Linked DNA regions of Homo sapiens. The protein of the gene in region 4 purifies or fractionates together with the protein of the main gene of each other region. This does not show direct contact. Each region holds a gene or a part of one and is shown on either strand. Other genes may lie near its edges.

What was found.
Region 1: the proteins of MTAP (region 4) and TAGLN3 fractionate together in Homo sapiens (co-fractionation; one large-scale study listed by BioGRID). This does not show direct contact.
Region 2: the proteins of MTAP (region 4) and CYRIB fractionate together in Homo sapiens (co-fractionation; one large-scale study listed by BioGRID). This does not show direct contact.
Region 3: the proteins of MTAP (region 4) and NT5C3A purify together in Homo sapiens (affinity purification with mass spectrometry; one large-scale study listed by BioGRID and IntAct). This does not show direct contact.
Region 5: the proteins of MTAP (region 4) and ANXA6 fractionate together in Homo sapiens (co-fractionation; one large-scale study listed by BioGRID). This does not show direct contact.
Region 6: the proteins of MTAP (region 4) and MTPN fractionate together in Homo sapiens (co-fractionation; one large-scale study listed by BioGRID). This does not show direct contact.
Region 7: the proteins of MTAP (region 4) and SUMO4 fractionate together in Homo sapiens (co-fractionation; one large-scale study listed by BioGRID). This does not show direct contact.

The regions. Positions count from the first base shown.
Region 1 is NC_000003.12:112,005,422-112,008,921, reverse strand, and holds part of TAGLN3 (transgelin-3), read right to left. Parts: intron 1-3,500.
Region 2 is NC_000008.11:129,852,561-129,856,060, forward strand, and holds part of CYRIB (CYFIP-related Rac1 interactor B), read right to left. Parts: intron 3,188-3,500; coding exon 3,051-3,187; intron 1,784-3,050; coding exon 1,706-1,783; intron 1-1,705. UniProt on the Homo sapiens protein: Negatively regulates RAC1 signaling and RAC1-driven cytoskeletal remodeling. Regulates chemotaxis, cell migration and epithelial polarization by controlling the polarity, plasticity, duration and extent of protrusions.
Region 3 is NC_000007.14:33,056,277-33,059,776, forward strand, and holds part of NT5C3A (cytosolic 5'-nucleotidase 3A), read right to left. Parts: intron 1-3,500. UniProt on the Homo sapiens protein: Nucleotidase which shows specific activity towards cytidine monophosphate (CMP) and 7-methylguanosine monophosphate (m(7)GMP). CMP seems to be the preferred substrate.
Region 4 is NC_000009.12:21,801,382-21,805,435, forward strand, and holds the start of MTAP (S-methyl-5'-thioadenosine phosphorylase), read left to right. Parts: upstream 1-1,254; 5' UTR 1,255-1,367; coding exon 1,368-1,400; exon of another isoform or gene 1,401-1,485; coding exon of another isoform or gene 1,486-1,569; intron 1,570-4,054. UniProt on the Homo sapiens protein: Catalyzes the reversible phosphorylation of S-methyl-5'-thioadenosine (MTA) to adenine and 5-methylthioribose-1-phosphate. Involved in the breakdown of MTA, a major by-product of polyamine biosynthesis.
Region 5 is NC_000005.10:151,151,280-151,154,779, forward strand, and holds part of ANXA6 (annexin A6), read right to left. Parts: intron 1-3,500. UniProt on the Homo sapiens protein: May associate with CD21. May regulate the release of Ca(2+) from intracellular stores.
Region 6 is NC_000007.14:135,967,360-135,970,859, reverse strand, and holds part of MTPN (myotrophin), read left to right. Parts: intron 1-3,500. UniProt on the Homo sapiens protein: Promotes dimerization of NF-kappa-B subunits and regulates NF-kappa-B transcription factor activity. Plays a role in the regulation of the growth of actin filaments.
Region 7 is NC_000006.12:149,399,035-149,401,778, reverse strand, and holds SUMO4 (small ubiquitin-related modifier 4), read right to left. Parts: upstream 1,518-2,744; 5' UTR 1,388-1,517; coding exon 1,100-1,387; 3' UTR 501-1,099; downstream 1-500. Other genes in the region: TAB2 (TGF-beta-activated kinase 1 and MAP3K7-binding protein 2), read right to left, coding at 2,595-2,675. UniProt on the Homo sapiens protein: Ubiquitin-like protein which can be covalently attached to target lysines as a monomer. Does not seem to be involved in protein degradation and may modulate protein subcellular localization, stability or activity.

The DNA.
Region 1 (3,500 bases), on a different chromosome or scaffold from region 4:
TGTACACTCTGCAGAACCGTGAGCTAAAATAAAACCTCTTTATGAATTACCCAGTCTCAAATATTCCTTTAAAGCAACAAAAATGGACTAGTACACTAAGTTAATGATTGCCAAAATTCTAAATAACACTATGACCAGAAATCTGCCTTCTGGAACCAGTTCACATCTAGCTCACTTTCTTGTTATGTTATTCTTGTTATGTTTCCTAATTCCAGCACTCTTGGACTGACAAGATGGGAAGAGGGCCTCTTTCCAGCCTTCCCTGTCTTGTTTTGCCAGTTCAGAAGCCCACATCAAGCACCATTGGATGAGAGTGGCACACAGGAGTCAGGGCCACTTGTAGAAGCTGATTTCTGCAACTGGGGGTCAAAAATTTAAGTGCATAAAAAAGCGCTGAGGTTAAGGAAGCTCTGTGATGTGCACGAAGTATAAAACAACAAAAGGCTGGGCACAGTGGCTCACAACGGTAATTTCAACACTTTGGGAGGCTGAGGCAGGAAGACTGCTTGAGCCCAGGAGTTTCAGGCTGCAGTGACCTATGATTGCACCACTGCACTCCAGCCTGGGCAACAGAGGGAACCCCTGTCTCTAAATAACAATAAGATAAATGAAATAAATTTATAAACAAGAAAAGAAAACTAGTCGTATCACAACCAAGTGTCATATCTGCCTAATGACAAAGCCTTCAAAATTGTGCAAGTATAAAAAATGGCCATACACAGCCTGCTTTCCCAAGCTTCTTGGATTATTTATGGGAGTTTGCAGGGGGGCATCTCTTTTAAAATATGCATTTTGAGGTCATTCTCCTGAGAGAATGATTTGGTAAATTCTGGGAGTCCATATTTTTAATAAGCTTCCTGGGTGATTCATATCTTCAGGCAAGTTTGAGAGTTATAGGTGTTGCCTGGTGATTTGCAAGCTAAACTGATCTTCAGGATTACCCAAGAATCTTAAATATTCAGATTCTGGGGCAGTCTCCTGGGATGATTGTGAGGCAGCCAGATGGACAAGCAGATACTACTCTAAAGCTTTGGTTTTCAATGTTTAAAAACATCCCCATGTCTGCCATGTGGTAAGTACTAAGTAATATTTGTTAAGCAATAACTCCTTTCTTCAGAGATATCCTCCACAAAGTCAAAAGTAAAAGCGATAATTAGAAAAGCTCTGTTCCAAGTTGGAAGTCAGCCCAGAGCCCTGCAGCTTGGAATGGCTTTGCTCCCTGACAGCCACCCTGGATGCTTTGGTAGATGGCTGGGGCTCCTCAAGTGAGCTTGAAAGCCACTGCTCCAGGCCATTCTTCCAAGAACAGAAAAACATTCCTCAAAGAAGGATCAACTAAGTGTCGGGAATTTTCTGGATGGAGGGATAGCAAAAATGAGATAGAGTCTGGTTATCTAAGAGCTGGTGGAATCTGAAAAGCATACATACTGTATGATTCCTACTTTATGACATACTAGAAAAGGCAAAACTCTTGAGACAGTAAAAAGATCAGTGGTTGCCAGGGTTGAGGGTGGGAGGGATGAAAAGGCAAAGCACAGAAGCTTTTTAGGGCAGTACTTGATATGACACCGCAATGATGAATATGCGTCATTATACATTTGCCCAAATGCATAGAATGTATAACAGCAAGAGTGAACCTAATGTAAACTATGTATTTTGGATGATAATGATGTGCCAATGTAGGCTGATTACTTGCAATATGTGCTCCTTTCGTAGGGGATGTTGATAATGGGGAAGGCTGTGCATTTGTGGGGGAGAGAGGGCATATGGAAAATATCTGTACCTTCCTCTCAATTTTGCTGTGACCCTAAAACTCCTTGAAAATATTAGTCTTAAACAAAAAAGGAGCTGATGGTATGGTAGCTTTCTCTGTCTCACCTGGCAAGTGTTTTCAGCAAGAGTCTCACCTAGCAACTGACAGCTTTACTTGACAATACAGAGCTCCCTATTTCCTACATTGTCACAAAGTAATGTTATCCAAAGTGTGATCCTGCACCCCATATTACTAAGTTATAACTCCTGGGGAGTAGGACTGGAGGTTCTGCATTGTAAGGCCCCAACCCAGGAATTCTTAATGCTATAAAGATACTTTAACAAGGATTTTGTTCCATTAAATTCTTTATTACTTCCAAGGTATCTTATGTATGTCTATGAAAATAAAAAGTAAATGAAAAGGATAAAGGCAAAGAAAAAAGGTAAAAGAGAAGTCATTTGGGTGTGTCAACTTGGATTGGACAGTCTCTACTTTCTATTTCTACTTTTAATACAAAAAATCAGTCTTGCAGTCAAAGTTCTTTGTCTCAGAGCTATTATACTTCTATTATATATCAGTCTTGACTCAGCCTTGTAACTCTTAGAATACTGGATTTTTCCATCTTTCTTGGACTTACAGAGAAAGTAAGCAGTAGTGTATGAAACCATGTCTTATTTCCCTGAATAATAACTTTGGCCTAGCTTCCAATTCTCCACTGAAGGTAGACCAAAATATTGCAACAGTCAAGGGAGAAATATCAGGGGTGAGGTTGGGTTTGCTCTGTGGATTTTGTAAATGTTTGTTGCTTGCCTCCCTGACTCCCACTGCTCTGGGTGGTGGCTCTTACAGTGGGGTTCCCAGACCAGCAGAATCAATATGGTCTGTGAATTGGTAAGAAATACAAATTCTTGGCCTCACCTCAGACATATTACCTCAGAAACTCTGCTGTTGGGGCTTAGCAGTCTGTGCTTTAACAGGCCTACCTAGTGATTCCGATGCATGCTGGCATTAGAGAGCCATTGCTAAAGGAAAGACCCACCAAATACAATCGTCAGCAGCCACTTGAAATAAATGCAGTGACGGCTGCTCTGATAGAAAATGAGGCTTCCAGGCCAGGCGCGGTGGCTCACGCCTGTAATCTCAGCACTTTGGGAGGCCGAGGTGGGCGGATCACGAGGTCAGGAGATCAAGACCATCCTGGCTAACTCAGTGAAACCTCTTCTCTACTAAAAATAAAAAAAAAATTGGACCATCCTGGCTAACTCAGTGAAACCTCTTCTCTACTAAAAATAAAAAAAAAATTAGCCGGGCGTGGTGGCAGGTACCTGTAAGTCCCAGCTACTCAGGAGGCTCAGGCAGGAGAATGCCGTGAACCTGGGAGGCGGAGCTTGCAGTGAGCCGAGATCAGGCCACTGAACTCCAGCCTGGGCGACAGAGTGAGACTCCATCTCAAAAAAAAAAAAAAAGAAAAAAAAGAAAATTAGGCTTCGAGCAGCAGACACTTGTGATGTCTCAAGTCATTACAGGTACTTTACTTACAATATCCCAAAAGATCTCTCATGCTGTGTGAAATACCTCTTCACTCTTGCTGTTGAGGAATGACACATAAAGTGACGCCTTCCCAGAGAATATATTTGAACCTCCAGGCCCTTCCAATGTAAACCACACCTCCCTAACTCCCAGTCATCAAAGGGGGAACAGGCATGACATCACCATGTGTTCAGGATCCATACCAGTAGAATTACTA
Region 2 (3,500 bases), on a different chromosome or scaffold from region 4:
AAAATTGTACCGTCCTCCATTATGAACAATAAGTATCCATACAACATCCATGGTAAGATTCTAACAGGTGATAACACAAAAAGGGAGTCAGAGAACATTAAGTTGGAACAGAAGAAACTAAGGAGAAGAGTTATCCTTTTGCAGGTCATATTGGGCAGGTAAACAAGGTATTCCAATCTGGCAGGGGAAAGAGTATGTTTTCAAATGACTCCCTAAAGAGTAATTCAGCATATTCAGTGTAATAAGGGGCTGCAACCAACGAAAGATACAGGTTGGGGTCAGACTGTATAGTGCCATAAATGCTAGCTTAAGTTCATATTTTTCTTCCATGTGGAATGGGGAGCCATTCAGTGTGTTAGATGAAAGGAATGACAACTAAGTCAGTTTCCTAAAGAAAATTAACTGATAATCGTGGGCAGATTGTACCAAAATGGAAAAAGACTTGTAGGTCCGAAAATGAGTTATGCTGTGCAGAGTGACTGCCAGAAAGAGTGGGAATTAGGCTCTCTGTTGGAACAGTGGGAGGAGGAGATGGAAAGGGGGATGGAGAAGACATTTCAGAGATATTTCACTTGAAAAAAATTGGATTTTACCTGTAATTATTGAGGGTAAAAGGGAGAACCAAGATGACTAATGTCTTTAGCCTTAAGTGATGGCAAGGATGGGTATAGTATAGGATTGGCTGCTTTGCTTTTTGCTTTTATCTTATTTTACATGGTAGGTATGAAAAAGACAGATGTTAAGGTCAGTCTCACACGAGGAACTGGTCTATGCAAAAATCAAATTGATGCAAATTACAGATGTTTCATAAAGAGGAATCTTTTCCTCCAACTCAGTGCCTTAGTGCAAGTGCTTCCTAAAATATTTTTTCAAGGAAAAAGAAAATGAATGATAGTCTTTGATATATATATTTTAAATATCTTATGCCACTTATTACTCCTTACATAGTTACAGTATTTCTCTATTAAACTATCTATTTGAAACAAGGGTTGATCTTTGAAATTTTTCAGACCAATTATAAGGTTCTCAGAAACACAGAGAACAAGTTAATATTTTCTTCCGCTCTAGTTTTACTTATGGTATTTAGTTCCTTGGAGGTAGAAAAGAGTAATAAACAGCTTAAGAGGAGGATGGTAAGAAGTTAAGAGACCTAAAGAAGCCAGAAGAAATGCTATACTAGCCAAGGAGCAGGCACAAAGCCATTTTCTCAAACAGCTATATCAGGCACAGATGTGTTAACAGGCCATGACCTCACTATCACCTCTTGCCAGCATTAACCATTAATTTCTTGGAGGAAAACGGACTTGGGTTCAAGATTTCTCTCCAAGAAATTAACCCACGTCAATTTCTCTCCAAGACTCTTCCATTCTAAGAATATAGAGACAAAAAACTCGTAACTATGAATTCACAGAATTTCTGTACAGTTAAAATGAGAGTACATCGCGAAATTTTATAAGGATCAACGTTATACAGATAAGCAATTTTGTTGAAGTAGTTGTGGGAATTTAAGAGACTGTGAAGAAAAACAGGTAAACACCATATGGTTTGTTACAGTTTGCTTTTCCTCCTACAGCTATGGCTGCCCATAATTACTAACTTTATTACTAGCTTTAACACTATCTGAATGAACAAACAAAATAATAAAATGAACAGGCTGAGCACTAAGTTACTCTTACCATCCCCCTAATTCAAAGCATTAACTTACCGGTACATTGTTAATCCTCATACGACTCAATGTTCTTCTATAATAGCTGAAATCATTCTGTATGGCAGGATTTGTCATCTGAAGAAGACAGTTGTGGAAAAAAAATGTTATGTACTAAATGCTAATGTAAAAAAACTAAGTAAAAAATCTTTAGTTTTAATTAGTATAAAACATTCCATAATTCATAGTATCATTTTAAGAACTAGCACTGGTATAATCCAAGGTGGCTTATAACTGTATTTAGTCCTTACTGAACATATAAAACGAAAGACCACAGGCAGTATACTTTCCCTTTTCTTTTCAGTTAATTTCAGGTAATGTACTAAAAGCTTGTTTATCAAATAAACAAAAACAAAAAGGACTGTTTAGGCACTTGTTTTTAGTTATTACGATAAAAGTATGTAGGTATGGTCAACAGAGCAATCCTCAAACTAGAATTTTACATACAAATCTGACTGTGATACAACTATAAAATGCTGAAGTTTGGAATCCAGCTCTTCCATTTTCTAGACAGGGTACCAGAGGCCCTGAAAAATCAAAGGACGTGCCCAACGTCTCATGACTAGGGTTACTGTGGCAGAGTATAAACTGGAACTCAGGTCTCTTGATATGAGACCTAGTGCTTATTCCTTTACATTCATTCTTTTTAACAACAAGGTATTTATAGTTCCAAACACTATAAACAATGACAGAGGAAAAAAGAAACAGAAAGAAAGGAAGAAAGCGGGAAAGGAGGAAGGGAGAAAAAAGAAATTTTAGCAACATTTTAATATAAAAGAATGTTGAAAAACGGGGGTAGAGGGTGTGAGCAGAAAAGAAAAAGTATTAGAAAAAAAGCTCAACCTTTTGTTTCGGAGATTAATTTTTAAACAAGGTTAAATGAAGACTGCTGAGACATGTGGATCACCTGAGGTCAGGAGTTCGAGATCAGCCTGGCCAACATGGTGAAACCCCGTCTCTACTAAAAATACAAAAATTAGCCAGGCGTGGTGGCACATGCCTGTAATCCCAGCTACTTGGGAGGTTGAGGTGGGAGAATCACTTGAGCCCAGGAGGGAGAGGTTGCAGTGAGCTGAGATCACGCCACTGCACTCTACCCTGAGTGACAAAGCAAGGCTCTGCCTCAAAAAAAAAAAAAAAAGATTGAGACCGAATACTCAGTAATTTGCTCTTTGCCATGTATCAAAAGACCCGTCATTAATTTCTAAATCCAGCTTTGCATTTTTATTAAGGTCTAGCAGACATCATTTAAATACATTTTAACAATGTTTCCCGGCTCTTCCTCCTAGTACTCATTAAAAGATTCATGATTTTCGTAACAATCAGGGCCAATAGATAATTCTACCTTGAGTTCATCAAACCGGAGTGTGAAATGAAGAATTTCTGCAAACTGTTTAGCAAGAGCCTGCTCTCGCTCTAGATGCTGGGTGGGAGAATATGGGGTACTTGTTAAGGCTCCCAGAAGACCTCTTAATGCTGCTTCTAAAGAAAAAAATTGAAAAAAACATTAAGTTGTTTGTATCTGTGTGATATTTGTTTATTAAAAAGTGAACAATTCATAAATGTTAATTCCCAGAAAAGTTCTCTTTAAAAAACAGATGATCTAAACATAATAAAACTAATTAAGAAGTTTAAATGTTGCCATTGCTAATGTACTACACACATTCTGAATACTATTTAACAGAATAAAAACCTTAAACGGACTAATTCAAGGGTTTATAATTCTGTAAACCCAGATTGAAAATAGTGCAGAAGTGAATTTGAATTCAACACCAAAGGGCAAGTTTTATATTAC
Region 3 (3,500 bases), on a different chromosome or scaffold from region 4:
CAGGTCCTAAAAAGTCATAAATCTAAGCACTGATATAAATTAGATAAAAATTGAGATATGGAGATATTTTAAAAGTCTGTCCAGGTATGGTGGTTCACACCTATAATCCCAGCACTTTGGGCAGCCAAGGCAGGAAGACTGCTTGAGCCCAGGAATTTAAGACCAGCCTGGGCAAATAGTGAGACCCCGTCTCTACCAAAAAAAAAAAAAAAAAAAAAAAAAAAAAAAAAAAAAAAAAAATTTAACTTAGCCAGGTGTGGCGCCACATGCCTGTAGTCCCAGCTACTTGGGAGGCTGAAGTGGGAGGACTGCTTGAGCCCACGAGTTTGAGGCTGCAGTGAGCCATGATCGCTTCATTGCACTCCAGCCTGGCAGCAGGGTGAGACCTAGTCTCAAAAATAAAATAAAATAAAGTCTATTTGATTCACTAAAGCAGTTGTTTAAAACTTGGGTTGCTTCTCCCTTCTTTTTTAAAACACAGACTCAATAGTGGGCTTTCGATTCACTCAGTATAATACCCAGAAAACATGTGATATTTTCTTTGTTTTTTTTGAGATGGAGTTTTGCTCTTGTTCCCCTGGCTGGCGTGCAATGGTGTGATCTCCGTTCACTGCAACCTCCGCCTCCTGGATTCAAGTGATTCTCCTGCCTCAGCCTCCCGAGTAGCTGGGATTACAGGCATGTGCCACCATGCCCGGCTAATTTTTTGTATTTGTAGTAGAGATGGGGTTTCTCCATGTTGGTCAGGCTGGTCTCGAACTCCCAACCTCAGGTGATCCGCCCGCCTTGGCCTCCCAAAGTGCTGGGATTACAGGTGTGAGCCACCGCACCCGGCCCTTTTTTGTTTTTTTAACTGCTCCTTGAGGAGCAGGGCTAACTCATAGGCAATGCACCCAGAGTTGGCCTATATTGTCTTAAAGTGGAAGAAGGGAAGAAGTTTTTGTTAACAGTTTATTTACTAGGACCAGGCACAGTTGGTACACACCTGTAATCCCAGCATTTTGGGAGGCCAAGATGGGTGGATCTCTTGAGCCCAGCAATCTGAGAACAGCCTGGGCAATGTGGCAAAACCCCCATCTCTACAAAAAAATACAAAAATTAGTTGGGCGTGGTGGTGCGTGCTTTAGTCCTGGCTACTCTGAAGGCGAGATGGGAGGATGGCTTGAGCCCAGGAGGTGGAGGTTGCAGTGAGCTGAGATTCAACCACTGCACTCCAGCCTGGGTGATCGAGTGAGACCCTGCCTCAAAAAGAAAATAAAATAAAAAAAGAAGTTTATGTCCTAGAAAGAAACACAGTATGCTAAAGTTTTAAAAAAACCACATCAGCTACTTAAGTAATAGTTGACATTAACAACAAAGCAATAAATTGTTGAGATATGTTTAAATTGGAAATGACCATTTTTAACTGGTTGTAGAGGTTCTAGTGATCGTTCCATCTCCCCTATCCCCCACATCAGCTACTTAAGTAATAGTTGACGTTAACAACAAAGCAATAAATCGTTGAGAGATATATTTAAATTGGAAATGACCATTTTTAACTGGTTGTGGAGGTTCTAGTGACCATTCCATCTCCCCTATCCTGCTGTCTAAATAATTTCCTCCCTTCCTCGTTGGTTTTTAGGGGCTAAGCTTAAGACTACACATTCATTCTAGTGTTGTGCTTGCATTTTACTTCACTGGATAAATACTCTACTTTAGAGAATTTAATAAAGGATATTAGAATAACTGAATAAGATTAAGCAATCTCATTTTTTTTTCCTTTTGGCTCTTTCTTTGAATTCTAGTCTCATCCTCTTTTTGGTAGCTTTATTAGAGAAAAACTGAAAATTTGCTGATAAAAATAGAATACATTCTGATATTGCAGGAGAAATTAGAAAAGAAGTCGGTATGTAACATTTGAAAGAGGTGTCATTTAGTAGGAAAAATCAGATTAACTGGATAGAAGTAATGAATGAAGTAGGTGGAGGCAATTAATCTAAGGCTGTAAATAATAAGATGTAATATAATGAGAATATGGAGAGTAAGTAACTATAATTCAGTATGAATAGTACACTTTTATTATTTTTTTATTTTATTTTATTTTATTTTGAGATGACATCCTGCTCTGTCACCCAGGCTGGAGTGCAATGGTGCAATCTTGGCTCACTGCAACCTCTGCCTCCTGGTTTCAAGCGATTCTCCTGCCTCAGCCTCCCAAGTAGCTAGGATTACAGGCACCCGCCACGACGCCCAACTACTTTGTTTTTTTATTTTTAGTAGGGACGGGGTTCCACCATGTTGGTCAGGCTGGTCTTGAACTCCTGACCTCAGATGATCCACCCGCCTTGGCCTCCCAAAGTGCTGGGATTACAGGCGGGAGCCGCCGCGCCTGGCCCAGAGTAGTACACTCTTTCAGAAAGACAGAGATGTTCCGTATTCCCCTCAAAAGGCATCTGTCCACATCTCCCCTAGAACTTTGCTAGACTGATTATTTTTTCTCCTCCTCTTATCTTTAACCATTTGCTTTTCACTACTCCTCTGCCCACCAACATACTTCTGTGCCAACCATTCGAAAAACAAAACAAAATACCCATCCTCAGCACAACTACTTCCTCTGCCCAAAAGTCATTTTTTAGTTGTCTTCACATCATTGTTTTACCAACGGCGGCTCAACCCACTGCTACCATAGCCTTTCAGACCAACTTCTGATCTTGTCATCAACTTCTGACCTTAGAGAAGATGGACATAGCTAATTCTGCCCCTTCTTTTGGAAACATTTCCTGTTATTCCACCTCTGACAGCTTTCAGCATCTTTACTGAACTTGGCATTGCCAAGTTTTCTGTTTTCTTCTCGCTGTAAAACTATGGATGAGAAATAATATCCAGCTCCACACTGGCCATTGAGAGGCTAGACATTAGGGAAAATATTATTTCTAGCCTCAATTTATCTTTAGAGCTCCAGCCTTCCATTTTCAGTTGCTATTGCTAATAATAACAATAAGTAATGTATATATTGGTTACTCTGGGCCAGGCACTTTTCTAAGCACTTTAAATATATTAACTATTTCATGAACATTTCTAGTTGGTCATTCCTTGATCATCTCAAATTTCATATGACTTAAAGTGAACTTGTGATTCCACATTTCCCTTACCTCCTGGCTACTTTCCAAACCTGCCATTTTTTCCTTCTCTTCATCTTGGCTAATAATATAACCAGAATCAGCAGTTACCTGATAATCTTAAAGTTATTTCTCCTTACAATTAATCCCTTTATCTAATGATCACAAATAATAAGCTCTGAAAGAAAGCAATTATGTTCTAGGCACTGTGTTATCTCATTTAATCTTCACAACCTATGAAGTAGGTACTATCATTATCTCCCAATTAATAGATGAAAAATGGGAGATTCAGAGAGGTTAAGTAATTTGCCCAAGGTCACATGGCTTGATAAATGAGAAAAACTAGATTCAAAACTAGGTTTGTATGACTCTACAGTCTGTGCACAAAGTCCCGTTGATTTT
Region 4 (4,054 bases):
GCATTTTATAACTTAAAAGAAATAGATGATTGTAACAGAAGAAAGAAAACTTTACATTGTGAGAAAATTTAGACCTAAAGCTTATAGTAATGTGAGGACGAAAGTCTATACTGTTTAAGTAAATAGGTTCTATGAGCAGCATCCAGGCTAACATCACACAGTGGTATTTTGAATTAAATTGTACTTGTGTTTTGTTTCCGTGTTTTGCTGCTGTAAGGAAAGAGGAAAGCATCCCCTTTCTCGGCCCTCCTCCCACGTCCAGGCTAATTTGCAGCATTTCTACATCTCAGAGTCCACCCTTAAGATCCTTGCCACCCATTATTTTGTTTCAGAACGCTTAATCCATCAAGGAAGGTTAAATTGGATTACCCCAGTAGGGAAGGGACGGGGGCTGTAAGCATGAGGGATTATCCCTGTAAAGGGCTCGTGGTGTGTGTGTGTGTGCGTCCTGCTAGTGTTGAATGACGGAGACCTGAGTTTGGATTCTGAATCCAGGTGTATTCGATGCCGCTCCGGCGTAGAACGGGTTAAAGATGCCCCCAGCCAGGTAGAGCCAGACTGGGAGTTGTGCAAGGTCTCAACCCCCTAAAAGCGGCCCCTCAAATTGAAGATGAGTAAATCATAGTTCGTAAATCAGAAAGATTATCCAGTACTACGTTACTCTGTTTATTTCCCTTTCGTCATCCCTGAGTCTTGGGTCAAGTCCATCCCAGCTCTGTCCTCCAGGAATCAAGGGAAATACGCAAACCCGCGGTGGGTTCGCAGCCGCAGGAAGGACAAATCTTGCCCCCGCCGCGGCGGCCGCCCCGCGTTAGCTGCCTAAGAGAATCTCCGTGGCCGGCCAGTACCCGCCTTGGTGAGGATTCTCCCTCCCGCGAGAACTTCTGGAATGCCGCCGGGCCAGATTTTGCAGCTGAGGCCTCCGACGCCACTAATATTGGGCCAAGCAGGGAGTGCTGCTCTTCCTTATAAGGTTTTAGCGAAAGTTAAGTAAGCCAATTAAAGTGCAAAACACACAGTCTGGAACAATACAGCGCTCTATAAATGGTCTCCATTATTATCATTATCCGTTAGTTATAACTGGGGATAAAAAAAAAAAAAAAACGACAAAAACCTGGAGAACCGGAAAGGTCTGCAAAAGGGGCGGAACGCGGGAACTTCGATTTGGGGAAGGGGTGGCGGGGGAGATCCCACACAAGCAGCCAATCCAGCTGTCCCGGGGAGGAAGAGGAGGAGTCAAGGCCCGCCCCTGGTCTCCGCACTGCTCACTCCCGCGCAGTGAGGTTGGCACAGCCACCGCTCTGTGGCTCGCTTGGTTCCCTTAGTCCCGAGCGCTCGCCCACTGCAGATTCCTTTCCCGTGCAGACATGGCCTCTGGCACCACCACCACCGCCGTGAAGGTGAGATGAGCCCTCCCAGCCGCAGCGGTTCGCCCTGCCGGATGCCTTCTCGCCCCCGCGCCGGGGGACCGCGCCTCCGGGGGCCATGCGCCCGGCCCGTGCGTCCCTTGCCGCCGCGGGGAGGGACTGGGGCGCGGCACTCGGGACTCACTTGCCGCGCGAGGAGAGGGTACGCTTGCAAATGATCCCCCTGCCGCACCGCCAACACACACACACACACACACACACACACACACACACACACACACACACACACCACCTTTTGGCTTATCTGCACCCGCACCCTGTAGGGCGTAGGCACCCCTTTAGAGAGAGAGGTCGTGGATGGGAGAGGCTGCACCCATGCCACCACCATTCCTGAGAACCACTCTTCTTCCAAGAAAGACACCCGGCTGGAGTCAGGAGGTGTCCGGGCGCCTGCAGCTTCTGTGACCGTCTCCTGGTGCCTTGCGGGACTCCAGCTTCCGCTCTCTGACTCTGCTTGTTGCCTGCGGCCCACGTGGGAGAACTGCTTACTTGCTCTTTTGTATGCTTCCGGCTTCTTTTTCCTCCAAACGTAGGCCTTCTCCGCGCTGAAGTTTTCCCCAGCAGCGTAATACTGTAAGAATTCTGAGACTTTCTTCGAAAAGGAGTACAGGCGTCCGTTTTTAGGGCTGCACTGTTTGGAGGCCTCTGGCTTGAAACTGCTTTGTTTTGCAGCCTTGCAAGTTAGAGTTCAATTTCCTTGTGCCCTAGGCCCTGAGAGGCCTTGATACAAGGGGTCATTGTGCGGTGGGAAGCTTTGTGCTGAGGAGGGCACGAGTTCTGAGAGTAGCAGCTGGCTTCCCTGGGGTTTTAAACACTTCTCTCCTGGTTAGTATTCCGAGAGAGAATTACAGCACGTAAAGAAAAATTGATGATAAAACTTAAGACCTCTTCTAGGCAGTTTATTACTGGCTAAGAATGCGTTCTTGTTTGATTTTTAGAAATTTTTGGCCTATGGGATAGGAAGGTCTGCGATCTTCTCCAAAGCATCTCGATTCCCTACACTCGACTGCAGTTTTCCCGGGAGAAGGCGAATTTCTGCGGTCAGTGTGTAATCAGCCAGATTAGTTTATTACGCCCTTGCAGGTTTAAATGAGCCACTTAGAATGAGAGGAATGGTGAAGGGTGTTGCATCCAGACTTATATATGAAACTTATTTTGTCATTTTGAAAAGAATCTTGCATCCAGCAAATATTTATAGAAGGCCTCTCCCCTGCCTTCATTGTTTGGCGGAAACAAGGCAGAAATGGTTTTCATGAAACTCGTGTGAAGTATGTGACTTCTCTTAGGTGCTCATCTATAAACTGAGAATTTTACTGCAGAATTTGCTAGGAGGGCTAGAATTATATTGTCTATGTTGCACATGGTAGAAGCTTATTAAGTGGTAGTGCTTATAAGTGGGGGAACTGAGATTAATTTTGAATGATCTTTTCCCCAAAAATTATTAAGTTATTGTGTTAGGTATCATTAGGCCACAACTTTTCACCTTATCCTTGCAGGAATACACTTCAAGCGCCATTAAAAATGGAGAAATGGTGTTTAAAACAGTCTTACTTTAATCTGGTTAGCATTCTCCCTGCCACAGGGTTTCCCTTCAAATTAATGCAGTGCATTTAAGTGCAGAATGGGCAATGGGATTCTCAGAGACCTGATGTAAATATTGAATAGTGTGTATTTTTGGTCTTGGCAAGCTTCTGGATATAAAATTAAGAGGTACATATGGTGCTAGGACTGCCTGCTGATTTCTCTTTTAATTTAGAACAGATGACAGCTTTGCCGTAGAGATTCCATGATGCCAGCACCGTATTCCCCAGACTTCTAAGGCAACATTCTGTATAGAAGATGTGAGGTGCCAGTGTCCAGAGCAAAATAGGTTAATAAAAACCACATCCTATTCCCAAATTATAGAATGATGGGGCTGGAGTGTTCCTTCAAGACCATCCATATAGCCACACAAACCCGTTTTGCGGGTGTAAAGTTGAGGCCCAGAAAGGTCAGCTAAGTATCCAGAATTACACAGCTGGACCTAGATAATGACAGAATTGGGCCTAGAGCCTGGCATTCCACCAACTAGATGTGAGGCATTTCTGAAATCTGAAGTGTGGTCTCTGCCCTGTTTTCTTGTGACCTAATGCACAATTAAAATGAGCACTTGATAGAATGTCCATCTTGAAGAGGGAGGCAGAGGGTATGCAGAAAGCAGGCTGCCTCCAGTGCCCACTGCACACCACCCAGGTATAGGTATAGGAGGCACATGTGTGTCTGAACCCCATTGGTGTCACTGGCAGGTCCTTTGAGAGGTTGCTGGATTTAAATACAGTAACATGTAACACACTCAGCCCAGTTCCAGGTACTCCTTTAATGTCAGCCCAAGTACCTCTCTTCTTAAAATAGAGATATTAACGGGGTGGATCTTAAATTCATTCTCAATTTTAGAGGTGCAGTTAACTCATGCAAGTGAAAGATTCCACTGAGTTTTGGATTGGCAGTATATTTGGCATATCTTTCAAATCTAGCCATCTACTGGTGGAATCCTATTCAAAAATATTTATTGAATACCTGCTAGACAATGGGGATGCAGCTTTGAGTAAGCGAGGCCTTTATTTATTTTCTTCAAGTTTATATTCTAG
Region 5 (3,500 bases), on a different chromosome or scaffold from region 4:
AACCTAGACCATACTGCTCAAATTGGCTGAATATTTTACATCTAGTGTTTCTGAATCCCACAAGGGCCCTTAATAATCCATGACTCCAAGTCCCTCATTTTCTAGACGGGGTAAAGGCATCTCAGAAAGAGAAAGTGACTTGCCAGGGCCCAGGAAGCAGCCAACATCTCTGCCTAGCAGCCCTCGATCATAACAAGTCCCCACACAACTGTGGGTCTTGGCTGCAATGGGACACCAGGAAGAGTCCAAAGAATAAGACCCTGGTTCTGGTTCCCAGTCTGCCCCCATGTAACCTCAGGCAAGCCAGATCCCTCTCTCAGCCTTAGTTTCTTCATCTCTAAAGTGGGACAATACATCACTCCCTCTTTGGTAGGATCTATAGTTAGAGGCTTTTAGAGACTTCAACTCAGGATTTTCACAGCAGAATATCAGTCCTAGGAGGGTCATCTCCCAGGCCACAGGATTCCTCCCCATCTCCACCCGCCAATATGCAACATTCATCACCTTGGTTGAAAGAGCTGTTCAAGACTAGTAAACAGGGTCATTCCAGACCTGTGCCTCTTTCCTCCCAGGAACCCTGATTCTCTCAGATCTAGATGAGATATACTGTGACGACTTATCATGACTGATCATTCGTGAAACCCACACAGGAGCAGAATGAATGGCCTGGGTGGCTTTGTGCTGCTGTGGCCACCCCTTGCCTCATCCTTTTGCCTGCAATCAATCACGTTTTCCTCCTTCCCCTTCGAGAGTTCCAGGCTGACTCTAGAAGGAACGGCTCACCACTGCCCAACCACAGAGATGTGGATAGGGGAAGGGTTTTATCCAAGTCATGTGAAGGCATGGGCCTTCAGGCACAGATGTTGCCCAGCAGTTTGTGATGTAAGTAAGTTACTTAAACTGAATCTCAATTTCCACATCCGCAAAATGCAGATAGAAATACCTATAGGTACTGAGAAATAAATGAAGTAACGGGGGGAAAACACTTAGCACAGTGCGTGGCACACAGTAAAGGCTCAATAAATGGTGGCTTTTATTATAATAAGCCCAAACATTTACAATGGAGGCAATGTGGCATTAGAATCAATGCAGGATTTGTGGTCGATGCCCAAGTTCAAATCCTGACCATGCAAATTCCGAGCTCAGTAACTTGGGCAAGTTATGGAATTTCTCTGCCTCAGTTTCTTCATCCTGAAATGACCCTCTTGTAAGGTTTTTGTGAAGATTCAATGAAATAAGGCAGGTAAAACACTTAGCATGGCCAGGTACAGATTAAATGTTTAACAAACGGTGACTTCTGTTGCCACAATCATCATTATTACAGCAGTAGTCTCCAAAAAGGGGTAATGGGTATGACAATCCACTGGGGTGCAGGACAAGAGTATCACCACTTTCCAAATGTTTTAATCTTGCCCTTTTATGTCCCATTTTTATTTGTTATACATGTATAAAGTTAAAGAAAATATTAGGGGTGCAGGCTGATAGAGGTGCACAGTCAAAATCTGGATTCAATGGAATGGAGGCAGGGGCATGCCAGGAAGAATAGTAACACCAGGGTAAGAAAAAGCATTTCTGTCATCGAAAGGTAGCTTGGGCTGTGGAGGAACAGAGTACACTTTTGAGGGAAAGGAGATGTTGAGCGTAAGGGGGTGAAACCAGGTGTGGTGGGAGGGTGATTTGAGAAAAAAGAAATAATATGGAAAATCATGCAAAAAAACCCACCCAGACCTCTGCCTCAGGGGAGTGCCTGAGGGGCTACAGCCTGAGCCACAGCACTCCTCTGCTCACAAGTCTCCAATGGTGCCCCTTAATACTGGGCCTCTAAGCTCAGCAGTCGAGGCCATTGGTTCTCCTTACTGACTTCTTTGCCATCACCACTTTCCTCTTTGCCCTGTCTTCCCTGCTAAACCAGGAACGCCTTCCACCAACATTTTTAATCCAGCTTTCCAGAATCTATACCAGTGCTTTTCAATTCTAGCTTCACTAACAGAACCTGGGGAATTTTTCAAAACTACCAAAGATTTAAGGTCAGCCCTTAGAGATTCTGACTCAACTGCTGGGGTGAGGCCTGGCCTTTGGTAATTTCTAAAAACTTTCCTAGGTGATTTTAATGGCAGCCAAGGAGGCTGAGAACCACTGTTATCTGCTGGATTCAAATGCCGCCTTTTCTAACAAGCCAGAAGGTATTCCCCCGCTAGGGTGCTCTGAAACCACCTTGATTTGACTGGCTTTGGTCAACCACTGTGGATTTATCATTTCTCCATTAGATAAGGGCTGCCAGCCTCCAAGGTATTATGGGAAAGAATCTGTACTTCAAAGGAAAACCCTCCAGGTTGTCTGACTCGAGACTTTCATTGTCTTTGAGTGATTTTACAGGTCAGTAAGTTGCAAATAATTGATGGTAACACAAAGTAATTCTAATACATACTCCTTGCCCTATTTTGTAAAGGTCCAATTGATTTCCCACCCCCTCAGGTAAAAAAAGAGTTTTGTCTCTAATTGCACATTTCTTTCAATACAAATGTGTCTTTTGAGCTGGTTATAACATCGGCCTGGTGTGGTCATTGATTAATAAGTAGAACAGCACATGATCATTTTTGTATCTGCATGAGTCATAATTTTACACTTTTTAGAAAATTACTGCATATGCCTCTTTCCTGCACCCCCTCCCATAGGGCGTGGCTCCTATGGATGGTTGGGGGTAAAATGCACTAAGTGGCTTTCATGCTTTCTTTAGTGACCTCAGCAAATGGAACCATCTACTATTGGTTTTCAAACTGTGCTTTACTCCTCTTTCTATAGCCAGGAGATAAACTAGAGAGGTTAAGTCACTTACCCAACATCAGAAGAAAATCAGTCATCAAGCAGGGGCGTGTTTTTCCATAAACATTTATTTGAGCACCTCCTACAAACCAGGCCCACTGGTAGAAGTTGGGGGTTGAACAGAAAATGAGACAGACAAGGCTCCTGGCCCCACAAAGCTGGTGATAAGGTGATGTCATATGGCAGTTTGCAGTATATATATATATATATATATATATATATATATATATTGATCCCATACACAACCCATAACCAAAGAAAAATTGAGTATTTACCATGATAAACAGAAATATACCTTTAAAATATGACATTAAAAGTACATTTAATAAGGAGTCCAATAGTTTCTTCCTGTACCCCCAAAAGATCATCTTCAGTGCGTCCTGGGGTATATCCATCCCACTTAGAAGGCCCCTGGCCTATAAAATCTAGATCCTTCCCTCTTTGCCCTTTCTTGCTGGCTTCTCCCCCGGTCTGCAGGAAGACACCCAGGACCCGCTCCATAACCCTCCAGGAGCCTTGATTCTGATGAAGCTGGGGTAAATGCCTTCCCTGGCTCTGTGCGTGGGCACACCCCCCAGCTTGACGACTGGGGTTTCTTAGGGAGCAGTGTCTTTTCCTCTCCTGACCCAGAACCATTGATCCTAGGACTGGACAAGGCCTCAGGAGATCATCTCTCT
Region 6 (3,500 bases), on a different chromosome or scaffold from region 4:
ATGTCAGCTTGTATAAGATACAGGTGCCCTCAGTAGACAGAGAAACATTAGTATAGATTCTTTTCTAATTATTAATGCTTTTAGTCATTTTAAAAAATATATAAAATAGAGGAAGATCTTTTTTTACATTGGAACATAAATGTTCATTCAGATGTACATAGGCTATATAAAGTGTTTTGGTTTGAGATTCTAAACATTTTCCTTTTATTAGTGCAGATAATTAAAAATTTAATGAATTAAAACTGATAGAAATTATAACAATATTATGAGCTTGTTATTTAAAAAAGCAAAGCTGTATTGAATAAAGTAAAATATCCCATTGACTATTTTTCCTACCTATGTGGTTCCTCTCTTTAAAATATAAAATTGATTAGGTGTTTTTAAAACAGAAAAGAATAAAGAAGACAAAAATTGGCCAAAATTTTACTATTTAGATAACTCCTAACTTTTAAAAAGTAAAATTAAATTAATTCAGATGTGGATTTTAAAATGCCACAGTTAGGACTGAAAGGTAAAGATCTCCCCTCCCCAATGCCTGTGAACAAATCAGCCATTCTCAACAGGTCCATGTAATTAATTTCAGAAAAACATTGAAAATTTACTTACTCATCTGTTTTTCCCGCTTAAAAAGTTCTGTAAACACTTCTGCACTTTGCTTTCCACATTGAAATGTATTTATTCTTCCCTTTTTAAATGGTGAATAGTATTCCATTTTCTGGATGTTTATTTAACTATTCCCGTATGATAAACATTTTGTTTCCAGTGCATCTTTGCAATTAAACAGGATTGTCGTGATCACCTTTGTACATATACCTTGACAACTTTTGAGACTATATCTGCATTACTCTCTTCATGAGTTTCGTCAGCTTAGGCACACATTGGCAGACATGAGACCGATGGTTCCCTCACACCATCAACAGCACTGGGCATCATCAGACTTTTTAGATTTTGCCATTTGGATAGGTGAAAAATGATTGTTTATGTCTTTTGTTTATTTTTCTTTTAGTTGGTCTGTTTTTTATTGGTTTGTATAAACTCTATAAATTAGGGAAATCAGTTTTTTATCATGTTTTGCAAATATCGTTCCCAGTTAATCTCTTGACTTCATTTATTTTCTTATTCTACAATGGTCTTTTACTTTTTGTGGGGTTAAATGTATCGCTTTTTTTCTCTTTTGTGACTTGGATTTTGTATCCTGTTTACAAAGACCTTTTCTCTTCTGTAAAATTACAAATAAATTTGCTCTTCTGGAACTTCATTTTTTCTTCCATTTTGGACATTTGACCTTTCCATTATTTATTTTGAAGTAAGGCATGAAATAAGTGTATACTTTTTTTTTGACAGTTCTCATACCATTTATTATTATAGTTCCTCTTTTTTTTTTTGCACGTTAAGTGGTATATATTATAACAGATATTAGGAAAATGCAAATTAAATCCACAATGAGATACTACATTATAACTATTAGAATGGCTAAATTGGTAAGACTGAGAAGCTCTAAGGTGAAATGTTCAATAAATCATATTTAAAACTTCTTATCTGTATTAAGTAAATATTATTTTGTTTAATATTTTTTCTAGTAATTTCTGACATTCTTTTTTTTTTCTTTTTTTTTTTTTTTATTATACTTTAAGTTTTAGGGTACATGTGCACATTGTGCAGGTTAGTTGCATATGTATACATGTGCCATGCTGGTGCGCTGCACCCACTAACTCGTCATCTAGCATTAGGTATATCTCCCAATGCTATCCCTCCCTCCTCCCCCCCCCCCACCCCACAACAGTCCCCAGAGTGTGATAATCCCCATCGCAAGAACAAAAAACCAAACACCACATATTCTCACTCATAGGTGGGAATTGAACAATGTAGTTCCTCTTTACTAATAATTTGAACCATCATCTTTATCATAAACAGATTTCTTGCTCTTTTTCTATCTATACCAAACTGATTTAATGATGTGTGGTTTCAAAATAGGTTTTAGTATCTCCCTCTCACATTCTCTTTAGGATTTTTGCAGGTGATTCCTTAAAATTTTTTTTCCCATAATCTCAAGAAAAATATTAGGATGATTTGAACCTACCTAAAACTTAACCTGTATCTTTTAATAAGCATTAAGCTTTTTTTTTTTTTTTCTGGAATGCTGGGATCGTGTGATCTGTGGGACATAATACTTTAACTTTTAATTCTTTATGAATCATCTTAGGAGGATGTCATGCACTGTGAGAATGTGCCATATCAAAGATTCAAAACAGAGGAAGTGTGTTTAGATAATCAAATCACAGCAAAATTGGTGATGAAAGTTAGTTTATGGTATTACATCACAGGCCACCTTGTAATAAGAAAAATGGCTGAAAGTAATTTTTTTGCAGCTATATCTTTACTAAATAATTCTGATAAGCTTAGAAGCTTGATTTTTTTTTTCAGTCCACAGAAAATTACCAGTGTAAAGAGGAGCTGTGATTACTGAAAGAAAAGAAACCAAAATGTAAGAAGCTGACCCAAGAAAGTGAAGGGCAAAGAGCCATATTTACCTTAAAGTTTCAGAGGCCTCAGGCAATAATTAATATGTATAAGCGTAACCTTGAGCTTCACGAAAAGTTTAAACTTGGTTACTTTTCTCTTATTTACAAAGTCAGAGACATGTATAACATATTTTAGGAAGATTTCAATTTGACATATAAAAAAGAATGAGCATTTTGATACTTAGGCCTAAAGTAAGTATCTGAAAAATACTGAAAAATGGAGGTATTAAAAAAAAATTGTAGGCCAGGCATGATGACTCATGTCTGTAATCCCAGCATTTTGGGAGGCCAAGGCAGGAGGATCTATCACTTGAGCCCAGGAGTTCAAGACCAGCCTGGGCAACATAGCAAGACTTCCATCTCAACCACAAAAAAATTGTAGGTAGTAAACACTTTAAACATAGTACAATAGACGCTCATTATGGCACTGTCCTTTAGGGATTTGGAATTGCATTATTGGTGAAACCATAGCATAGAGGCTAAATGTGTTGGCTTTGGAATTAGATCTTCCAGGTCTGGCCTTCTTACTAACTAGACACTTTGGGTGAATTAAGCACTCAGAACTTGAGTTTCTTCAATTGGTGAAAATGGGAATGATTGTAATACCTACATAATAAGTGTAAACTGTGTACCATTGTGCCTGGCATATGGTGAGTGCTAGTAAATATTAGCTGTTGTTACTAATCAGCATCCTCATAAATTTGTTTAGAAGCAAGATTACTTACAGAGCAACTAGTCCAGCTCCCTTATTTTATAGATAAGGAAAAATTAAGTGTGAAAGCCCTTGACCAGTATCATAGTGCTATTTGAGATTGAAATTTAAATTCAGTTTTCCTGAACTTGGATGAGGGTTGGTTGGTTGGTTTTCCGCTACACCATTGTGTTTGCTAATGAAGTCATCTTGTGCTAGCTGTTACCTCTAATAAATTATTCTTTTTGTCCCACAACATCTGCTTGGCAAATTTCTTCTTCTTCCTG
Region 7 (2,744 bases), on a different chromosome or scaffold from region 4:
TTAGAAAAAATACGTGGAATGATTTCTATCTTCTTAGGTTTGTTTAAACTCGTTTTGTGAACTAACATATGATCTATCCTACAGAATGTTCCGTGTGTGCTTGTTCAAATCAGCTGTTTCTTTATTCATTTTCTGCCTGGATATTCTATTATTGTAAGGGGGGTATTGAAGTCTCCTACTATTGCTGTCAATTTCTGTCGTCAGAACTGTCATTATTTGCTTTACATATTAATGTAGTCTGATGTGGGGTGTGTATATATTTATAATTTTTATATTTTTCTGTGGAATTGATCCTTTTACCATTACATAATAATCTTTGTCTCAAGTTTTAGACTTAAAAATCTATTGTTTCTGATATAATTATAGCCACTTTTGATTTCTTTTAGCTACCATTTATATAAAATCTTTTTCCATCCCTTCACTTTCTGCCTATGTGTGTCTTTAAATATAAAATGAGTCTCTTGTAGATAGTATATTATTGGATCCTGTTTTTATTTTTATTTCATTTTAAACAAAAAGTTTATTTAAATAAGAAGCCTGACTTGAAGGAAAAACTTTCTAGGATTCTTTCTTTTTTTTTTAGAGTAATTTATCCCTACTTAAAGACAGATTGCCCTACATGTAACAGCTATGTACACAAAAGTTATAAAATTGTCCTTGGTTTTACAATGATAAATGAAAAACATGAAAATCCTCCAATTGAACAAGGTATGTGAGAATTTTTTTTTGTTGTTGTTAAAACAGTGAGAGCAAAATAACTTACTAGAATATAAAGATAAGACCTGAATGAACATGCCACTAATGGATAAAGGGGGTATTTTCACAGAATCAGTATTTTTTCCCATCCTGTCTCCACTTGATGTCAATCAAAACATACCATTGGCTGTTTGGTTTGAAGAAAAAAGCAATATGCTTGTGTACACATACCAGTTACTTCATGTATAATAAAAGAATGTGGAAGGGGGAAACAAAAGAATAGAGAAAACTATACTGTAGTAGTCAGAATGTGGTGGAACCAAATTGCAGTTTTCTAATTGAGAATGCAGTAATCTTGGTCTTTAAAGAACAGCGTTCTGGAGTAAAGAAGCAGGTTCCCTTTTCAGTAGACACCTCCCGTAGGCTGTTGAAACACATCAATTGTATCTTCATCTTCCATTTCCAACTGTGCAGGTTTGTCTGTTCCACTGATTGGTTGCCCACCAAATCGGAATCTGATCTGCTTCACTGACAATCCCCGTGGTTCACAATAGGCTTTCATTAGTTTACTAAGTGGTGTCTGCCTCTTAATCTTAAACTGCACCACAGAACCATCCTGTCCCGCCACCTTCAAATTAATATGATTGTTGTTCTCAGTCTTGACTTCTTCTGTGGGCTTTTCGTTGGCCATGGTGAACACCGGAGTCTCCTCAGCTGCTGCTTCACAAAAGAGGTGGCGGGTCCGCACCTAACGAGTACACGAGCAGCAGGAAGAGCAGCAGGAGGTGACAGCGGTGGATGAGGGAGAGGGTGCGTGCACATCCTGGGCTCCCTCCCCTCCCGCTGTGTGCGCCAGCACGAGCTGTTGGGGCCTCCCATTGGCTGCTGCCAGATCCTGTTTTTAAAATCCATTCATACAACTCCTTGTGAGTGGTGAGTTTAATCCATTTCCAGTTAAGGTAATTACTAATAAGTGAGGACTTACTATTGGCAGTTTGTTGCTTCCTGTCTATTTGACAACTGTTTTGCTCCTCTTTTCCTCTTATTGTCTTGTTATTCGACAACGTTTAATCGTGATTTACTTTGATTATATTTGGTTATACTCTTCTATTTTAAGTTGATAACAACTTAACTTCAAATGCATACAAAAATACTACTGCATCTTTACAACCTCCACCCTCCCACACTTTTGTGTTCTTGCAGTTTTCTTCTTTTAATATTATGTATCCATTAACACATTTTTACCTTTTAACTTTCTTATTAGAGTTGAAAGTAAATTATATACCACGGTTAAGTGTTAATCTGTAAATATGTCTATATTTTTACCTTCAGCAGTGATATTTATGTACCTGTTTCCATTTCTACACACATTTTAATGCCTGGATCAAAACACACAGACATACTTTGAAATGTCTTAGTTTGGTGTGCATATATTCTGAGAATATCAATGATGTAAAATGATAGAAGGTAGAAAACTATTCACCTGGAATTTAGGGTATTTTGATTACTTAAAGTTATATATAAATTAAACTAAATACTCATGGGGGGGGGGAACTTCCCTAAGGTATCTTCCTTATCATTTGTCTAAAGTTTTAAATGATACAAATTTTTGTACTTAGTAATTGTTTTTTAACCAAGACTTGCTATTATTGGTTGGGAGTACATAGTGTTTCCTAAGCTCGTGCATATTACTTTTAAAAAGCTAAGAATATTACATCTTTGCATCCTTCCCAACCCCAAGCATGTAAATGAAAATAAGCAAACATCTTCTTAATGAATTCATTTAAGAATGCCAAAGTTTGAAGCAATTCTAGAGAGGAAGGTTGCTGAACAGGAAAAATTTTCTAAAATTTTGCTTTTCAAAAGTAACAGTTTTCACATTTAATGGATACACTAACCTTTGGGTTTTGGTGGCACAGGACCTACAAATCCAATATTGTCATAAAAGTTATGAATAGCGCTGGGGTTAAAATGTGGTCCTGAAATATATAAAAAGTAAATATATCAATGCTTATAGCTCAAAAACAACTTTACTTTTTAAAACAAGT